Regions from separate parts of the Homo sapiens genome. Here regions 2 and 3 are each linked to region 1. A link means that fine-mapping ties the variant in region 1 to the plasma level of a protein whose gene starts in the linked region. Region 1 holds a variant in brackets. A gene starts in each other region. All regions are shown on their reverse strands.

Region 1 (2,760 bases):
AATATCAGGTTGTAAATTGCAGTTAGTTTCAGTCATTGTCAGCTGTAGCCATCCCTTACCCTCAGCGGCTTGGCAGGCAGCTGTGCAGATGATCCTGGAGTAGCTTACACATAGCTTTGCCCAGTGTGGACAAAGGAATGCTGTACTCTAATTATTGGGGATCTGTGCTCTAAATTGTTGCTTCTAAACATAGAAGTACAGAAAAAGGAAACCACTGTTGCATGTTCTCTTATTGTTGCCCCCCTCCCCCACCGACCCCACTTCCCCCACCCTCTAGTGACTTCCAGGAAATTTGAAAGGCAAGTGCTTTTTCCCCACTTTCATTTTTCTCCTTTCTTTTCTGGAGGGTCAGACATTAAGGACTAGGACATTTGAAATTAAGTCACCACATAAACCCGGGGAAAGGGGTACAGACTCAGAAAACACTTGAGAAGACCTTACGTTTGCACCTCAGGCTAATGCTCAGCACACAGATAGCCTACAACCACCCCACAAAAACCAACCCCAAAACAAAACTCGGCAAGTCCTGGGAAGGGAGAGAATCTGATTTTTAAAGTTATCACATTACTAGACCCAAATGTTCAGTTTTGAACAAAAAAATCACAAGGTATATGTATTGGTCCATTTTCATGCTGTTGATAAAGACATACCTGAGATTCAGCAATTTACGAAAGAAAGAGGCTTCTTAGACTTACAGTTCCAAATGGCTGGGGAGGCCTTACGATCATGGCGGAAGGCAAGGTGGAGCAAGTCACATCTTACGTGGAAGGCAGCAGGCAAAAAAATAACTTGTGCAGGGAAACTCCCGTTTTTAAAACCATGAGATCTTGTGAGTCCCATTCACTGTCAAAAGAACAGCACAGGAAAGACCCACCCCTGTTGATTCAGTCATCTCCCATCGGGTCCCTCTCATAACACATGGGAATTATGGGAGCTACAAGATGAGATTTGGGTGGAGACACAGAGCCAAACTGTATCAGTATACAAAGAAGCAGTAAAGCATGGACCATTCAAAGGAAAAAAAGAAATCAACAGAAACTTCCTTGAAAAGACCTGATGGCTGGTGAATCTACCAGACATAAAAACAACGGTCTTAAAGATGCTCAGAGAACTAGAGGAAGATGTAGAGAAGGTCAGGAAAACAACACATGAACAGGACGTATCCCATGACGCTCATCCAAATGAAACCATTTGGTGGGGTGCAACCCCAGAATCACGATGGGTGCCTTGTGTACAGGAGGCCAAACTTTATATAAGTATTGTACATTTAGCAGTGGGAACTACAATCCCTGGCCATGGTAAAGGTGCTAGAGGAATCCACAATTAAGTGCATGGCAACTTTCCATGTGACAGTGTTAGTTTTGAATCTCGCAGTGTCACCTGTCATTCTTGCCCACAACTGGAAATGACAGTGACCCCAGTGTCCCCAGTGTTCAAGAGACTCATAATAGTTTGTGTAGTACCCTTTTCCCCTGCCTCTCAAACTAGGGCACAGGCGTTCAGTT[C/T]CCACTGGTGGCCCCAAATCTTGGCCCCATCTTTAGTCTGTCTTCTCCAAAGATGTTAGCTCAGGATATAATGGTGGAAGTGGTTCCTTTTCAAGTAGTTTCTCTCTGGCACCCACCAATGCCTCTGCTGTTTTGAACCCTTCAAGTGTTGGTGGGAACACTCAGGGCAGAGAACCAGTCAGCAAAATCAACTCAGTCTAACAAGCATTCCTCTTGCGGTTCAATTGCTTGAACCAATCGTTTAACATTAAGATCTCAGGATTTGGGCTGGGCGCTAGTGGCTCATGCCTGTAATCCCAGAACTTTGGGATCTGCTGCACAGATCAACCCATCACCTAGGTATTAAGCCCAGCATCCATTAGCTATTCTCCCTGATGCCCTCCCTTCCCCATCCCCTGACAGGCCCCAGTGTGTGTTGTTCCCTGCCATGTGTCCATGTGTTCGCATTGTTCAGCTCCCACTTCAGGCCGAGGCGGGCGGATCACGAGGTCAGGAGATCGAGACCATCCTGGCTAACACGGTGAAACCCTGTCTTTAATAAAAATACAAAAAATTAGCCAGGCGTGGTGGCAGGCATCTGTAGCCCTAGCAACTCAGGAGGCTGAGGCAGGAGAATGGCATGAACCCAGGAGGCAGAGCTTGCAGTGAGCCAAGATTGTGCCACTGCACTCCAGCCTGGGTGACAGAGCGAGACTCCGTCTCAAAAAAAAAAAAATCTCAGGATTCATTACAGAAATGCAAAGCAAAATGACAATGAAATACCATCTCATGCCAGTCAGAATGGCGATTATTAAAAAATCAAGAAACAACAGATTTGGCAAGGTTGCAGAGAAAAAGGAATGCTTTTACACTGTTGGTAGGAGTGTAAATTCGTTCAACCATTTTGAAAAATGTGGTGATTCTTCAAAGATCTAGAGGCAAAAATACCATTTGACCCAGCAATCCCATTATTGGGTATATACCCAAAGGAATATAAATAATTCTATTAATATTATAAAGATATATGCACATGTATGTTTATTGCAACACTATTCACAATAGCAAAGACATAGATTCAACACAAATGCCCATCAATGATAGACTAGTTAAAGAAACTATGGTGCATATACATCATGGAATACTATGCAGCCATAAAAAGGAATAGGATCATGTCCTTTGCAGGGACATGAATGGAGCTGGAAACCGTTATTCTCAGCAAACTAATGCAGGAACAGAAAGCCAAACACCACCTGTACTCACTTATAAGTAGGAGCTG
Region 2 (2,744 bases), not on the chromosome of region 1:
CATCACACTCACCTCGCTTCCTTCCTCCGCCCACATCCCTAGCAGGCACGTGGGGCTGTCCCTCTTCCTTCACCCCCACAGGACAGCGCCACAGCCGCAGAGCCCCCATCCCGAGCCCGCGCCTCTCTGGTCGCGCCGTGTCATTCTGCCCACCCATTGGGCGACCTGGGCACGAGCACCGCGACCTCCCGCTCCGCGCAGCCCTCCAGCACCGTGGCCCCAGCACACCTGCAGAGCAGCCAGGCGCAGGAACCGAAACCCGCCGGGTGGTGGGCGGGAAGGGAAAGGTAGATGCCCAAGTGAAGGCGCTCATCTTTTTTCCTACGTGAACAGAAGTTGATTCTTAACTTCAAGTGAGAAATGACAGGGAGAAAAAGTATGCAATCACTACCAGAAAAGGTGAGAGGCCAGTGTTGTTTCCCAGCGAAGGGACGGGGTGAGATTCAAACCCATCGTCCGGCCAGGGGAGTCCGCCCCCAGAGCACCGAGAAGCTGGGGTGCGTGGGCGGAGAGAGAGCAGGGTGCGCCCGACAGCCCTGCGCCAGGTTGTCCCCAAACTCAACACTTCCTCTCTCCCTTCTGGAGTCACTTTCCCTTCCGGAATATGCAAGCTCTGGGTGGCCCAGCCCTGCCGCCAGACTCAGTTTCCAAGTGCGGGGGAAGGAGATGGGCGCTCTCAGCCGCGATCCCCTGGGAAGGTGGCCACTCACCTGCGCTCTGAAATAGAAGAACAGGGCGACGCTGCAGACAACCTGGCCCAGCCCCAGCCCCAGGAGGGCCACGAACATGGAGCGGGAGGCGGCAGGGGGCTGGTGCGGCGCAGGCGGCGGCGGGGCGTGCAGGGGGCCCTCGTGCGGGGCTCCGGGGCCGCCGCCCATCTCCTCCGAGCCACGCAGGTACTTGGTGTAGTCTCTGCTGGCGCGGCGCATGGCGCTCGGCCCTCTCGCTTCGGAGCTCTCCTCCCTCTCCCGCTCCCTCCCCTTCTTGTCTGCGGCCAACTCCGGAGGCTGCGGCGGAGCCTCGACGTGGGGCGCCGACTTGGAGCCCGGCTTTGGGTCCTGGGGCGCGCGGGCGAGCGGGCAGGGCGCCCGGCAGCCCCAACTCTTATAAACCGCTTGGAGAGCCCTGGCCTCGGGAGCCAATCAGCCCCAGGCGAGGCTGCCTCTTCCACTCCCACCTCTGGCTCCCCTTCCTTCCTTTCGCCCTCCCTCTCTCTCAATCTCTGTCACTGAAGGGCCTCCTTCATGGGGGCCCTCCAAGGAGGAGGCTGGGGGCTACTCCAGTGGTTCCAGACTCCCCTTGCCATCCTCAGCTGTCTTTCTGGAGGTCCAAGAGATGGGTTAAAGAAGACGCAGAGGACACCTTTGCTAAAGGATAAGGATTGCACCTCAGACATTCCTCCTGCATCCATTCTAGTTTGGTAGAGAAGGGACTTCACATCCTGGAGTCTCGGTTTCCTCCTTAGGATTTAGAAAGTTAAATTTGATGATCTCTGAAGACCCTTCCTGTCCAACCTCTCCCCCCAAAGTGCTTCCAAATATAGTTTCTCAAAGTATTTTGGAAGACTTCGAAAATTTCACAATCCCCTTCCCAAATCCCTATTTCTGCATCTTGAAGGTGACATTGAGCGAGGCAGGTCTTGAATGTGGCAGTAGAGAGCCTATAGACACCAACTCTGACTTTATAAAGATGAAAACAGTGCAGAGAAAAGGGTAAAGGGGCGTGTAGCCAGAAGCAAGCATCCGAGGAGGGCTCACCCAACAGTCAGGAAAGAGATGTAACACGAAGCTGATGATACAGTTAAATGTTAGTTTCATTGCTAAAGAAACCTTGCTAGGGCTTTTTAAAAACCTCTATTCAGAACTGTGGCTCTTAGTGAGAAAACAAAAATATTAACATTGCTCACAAATTCTGATACTTCTTCAGAAGGAAGTTGCTGACCAATTTAAACACCCATGAAACTTAGGATGTTTCCACTTTTTTATTAATACAGTTAGCCCACAGTATCCATGGGTTCCACATCTGTGGATGCAATGAACCACAGATCAAAAATATTTGAAAAAAAAAAAAAGGATGGCTGTGTCTGGACTAACATCTGTAGACTTTTTTTCTTGTGATCATTTCCTAAATGATACACAACTAGTTACATAGCATTTACATTCTATTAAGTATTATAAATAATCTAAAGATAATTTCAAGTGTACAAGAGGATGTGTGTAGGTTAAATGCAAATACTATGCCATGATATGTTAAGAAACTTGAACATCCATGGATTTTGGTATTTGCGGGGAGGGGTTTGGTGGTGTCCTGGAACCAGTCTTCCATGGATATCAGGGGACTACTGTGCCTTTTTATTTTGCATCCTCTTTCTGCCTAATTCGCTAATGAGTATTTCTCTAGGCAAGATTTGTGACAAATGACAGGTCTCTGAGTTATTAAAGCATGTGTTCTAAATTGAACACTTAGACCTCAGTAAATGTTGAGGAAGAGTGACCAGGTTGAATTTTTTTTAAAGGCAGCCATACAAAGAAAATGATCTGTTCAAATTCAAAAATGCCTTTAGCATTTATATGTGTATCAATATATAGGTTGGTGGAGAAGGGACAAAAAATTTTCAGACTCAAACATAGAAACAATTGACGTTAATTCTACTCCTTGTAGTCTTTGACCTCTTCCCACTTTTTGTTTGTTAACTTTGGGAAGTAGGTTTATTGTCTCCTCCTCCCCCTCCTCCTCCTCCTCTT
Region 3 (2,749 bases), not on the chromosome of region 1:
CATGCTGTTACATTCTGGCCCTTGAGGGACAAAGCTGAATGACACCCCGTCTTCTGTAATTTGCAGGATGGAACAGTCTGTGGATCCACTTTGAACTCGTGGTGGAAGGATGTCCCTTGGAAGGGGCAGATGCTCTGATCCTGGTAAGCCATCCTTGCTCCCCAGGGGTCCCCTCTCCTGATTCTTCACCTTCCTTCCCTTGAATCTGGTGAAAGGCAGTATTTGCCCTTCTCTGGAGACATATAACTTGAACACTTGGCCCTGATGGGGAAGCAGCTCTGCAGGGACTTTTTCAGCCATCTGTAAACAATTTCAGTGGCAACCCGCGAACTGTAATCCATGAATGGGACCACACTTTACAAGTCATCAAGTCTAACTTCTAGACCAGGGAATTAATGGGGGAGACAGCGAACCCTAGAGCAAAGTGCCAAACTTCTGTCGATAGCTTGAGGCTAGTGGAAAGACCTCGAGGAGGCTACTCCAGAAGTTCAGCGCGTAGGAAGCTCCGATACCAATAGCCCTTTGATGATGGTGGGGTTGGTGAAGGGAACAGTGCTCCGCAAGGTTATCCCTGCCCCAGGCAGTCCAATTTTCACTCTGCAGATTCTCTCTGGCTCTAACTACCCCAGATAACAAGGAGTGAATGCAGAATAGCACGGGCTTTAGGGCCAATCAGACATTAGTTAGAAAAATTCCTACTACATGGTTTATGTAAACTTGAAGATGAATGATTGCGAACTCCCCGAAAAGGGCTCAGACAATGCCATGCATAAAGAGGGGCCCTGTAATTTGAGGTTTCAGAACCCGAAGTGAAGGGGTCAGGCAGCCGGGTACGGCGGAAACTCACAGCTTTCGCCCAGCGAGAGGACAAAGGTCTGGGACACACTCCAACTGCGTCCGGATCTTGGCTGGATCGGACTCTCAGGGTGGAGGAGACACAAGCACAGCAGCTGCCCAGCGTGTGCCCAGCCCTCCCACCGCTGGTCCCGGCTGCCAGGAGGCTGGCCGCTGGCGGGAAGGGGCCGGGAAACCTCAGAGCCCCGCGGAGACAGCAGCCGCCTTGTTCCTCAGCCCGGTGGCTTTTTTTTCCCCTGCTCTCCCAGGGGCCAGACACCACCGCCCCACCCCTCACGCCCCACCTCCCTGGGGGATCCTTTCCGCCCCAGCCCTGAAAGCGTTAACCCTGGAGCTTTCTGCACACCCCCCGACCGCTCCCGCCCAAGCTTCCTAAAAAAGAAAGGTGCAAAGTTTGGTCCAGGATAGAAAAATGACTGATCAAAGGCAGGCGATACTTCCTGTTGCCGGGACGCTATATATAACGTGATGAGCGCACGGGCTGCGGAGACGCACCGGAGCGCTCGCCCAGCCGCCGCCTCCAAGCCCCTGAGGTTTCCGGGGACCACAATGAACAACTTGCTGTGCTGCGCGCTCGTGGTAAGTCCCTGGGCCAGCCGACGGGTGCCCGGCGCCTGGGGAGGCTGCTGCCACCTGGTCTCCCAACCTCCCAGCGGACCGGCGGGGAGAAGGCTCCACTCGCTCCCTCCCAGGAGAGGCTTGGGGTTAGGCTGGAGCAGGAAACCGCTTTCAAGTTATGCCATGCTTCCCCTAGGGTGTCCTTTTACGCTGCAAAGTTCCTGCTGACTTTATGGAAGACAGCAAGAGAGAGACAGACAGCGAGAGAGAGGGAGAGAGAGAGAGAGAGAGAAACTTGTTTGAAAGTTTTAGTCATTAACCTTCTGTCTTCATCTCAGAATATTAACGCCCTCATGTAGTCCATACTATCTTTGCTTAATGAACTTGAACTTTTATTATTAGTGGCAAAGAAGTGGTCCCTTAGATTCAGAGTAAGTTGGAAGAAGACGTTAGTCTTCTTAAAACCATTATAATTAGAATATGACATGATAGATTTTTCTAATGTAAATATTATGTGAAATTTTGAATAATTAGGAGAAAAGATCTCTCACACACACACTTCTTAACTGTGTAATGTTTTAATAAAATTTTATTGTTAAAATTATTTCACTTCTCAACTTCAATATACTGTGGAGAATATTGGCAGTATGTTATGTTCTAAAACATATCTAAAGAATTGAAGTTCACTAAATAGGGCTAAAAATTGTGTTTAAAATGTTATTTGGAAAAGAAAGGAATCTCTGTGACTTAGCTTTTTTTTTAAGCTTAGGTTTTGATCAAGTTAATAAGATTTGCATGTAGGTTTTTCTATGACCAATGACTTATTTTCTCTATGACACTAGAGTGTAGAGTACATCAAGATATGAATCAGACATTTATGCAAGGCTAGGAAAAGCCATATTTAAGCCACATATGTGTTTTGGATGTGTTTGAGTAAATGTTTGAACTTCAACCTCCAACCCACAAATAATGAATAGAAGGCTAGGTAGTCTTCTACTTAGTTCCTAGGATACAGAAACATAAATAAGTAAATAAATAGTAAAGACACTAAAGAACAGGTAAGTTGGATAGGAATCTACCCATAAGTATGTTAAAATATATATGTATGTATGTGTGTGTGTGTATAACTTCATCGCTAGAGATACTATGGAGTGCTTTTAAAAAAGTAAACCTTTATTAAAATATAACACATAGAGAATTGTGCAAGTGGTAAGTGCCTAATGCAGTTTTTCTAAGTGAGCACTTGTGAGCTAGCACACAGATCAAGAAATATATTATCGGCACCTCAAGAGCTTCCATCACTACTGTGTCTATGGCCAGAACAATCAGTATTCTG

Which allele goes with the higher level. Positions count from the first base shown, and alleles are read on the strand shown. Strength reflects both the effect of a copy and how common the allele is.
With allele T in place of C in region 1, the plasma level of the protein whose gene starts at base 1,081 in region 2 is lower (moderate association).
As copies of C replace T in region 1, the plasma level of the protein whose gene starts at base 1,341 in region 3 goes down (weak association).

The links. PIP is the chance, under the fine-mapping model, that this variant and not a neighbour inherited with it causes the effect. Protein levels are from antibody-based Olink assays in UK Biobank. Linkage for the fine-mapping came from a reference panel and not from the study's own genotypes, which makes the PIPs less certain.
Region 2: TNFSF11 starts here. The variant in region 1 is fine-mapped to the plasma level of the TNFSF11 protein (UK Biobank, PIP above 0.99).
Region 3: it holds the start of TNFRSF11B, and the variant in region 1 is fine-mapped to the plasma level of the TNFRSF11B protein (UK Biobank, PIP above 0.99).

Annotation. Positions count from the first base shown.
Region 1 is chr3:172,575,456-172,578,215 of GRCh38, reverse strand. The region is part of intron 2 of LINC02068 (long intergenic non-protein coding RNA 2068); the gene reads left to right. Among named protein-coding and RNA genes, the nearest start is that of LINC02068, 19 kb to the left of the region's middle. The variant C/T (reference allele first, on the strand shown) is at 1,506.
Region 2 is chr13:42,572,489-42,575,232 of GRCh38, reverse strand. It overlaps TNFSF11 (TNF superfamily member 11), which reads right to left and starts at 1,081. Exons shown (of 5, transcript NM_003701.4): 1 at 711-1,081. The coding sequence starts at 929. RefSeq lists an enhancer at 484-683 and a silencer at 774-1,143.
Region 3 is chr8:118,950,477-118,953,225 of GRCh38, reverse strand. TNFRSF11B (TNF receptor superfamily member 11b) reads left to right here and starts at 1,341. Exons shown (of 5, transcript NM_002546.4): 1 at 1,341-1,434. The coding sequence starts at 1,405. It also overlaps a transcript of COLEC10 not described here.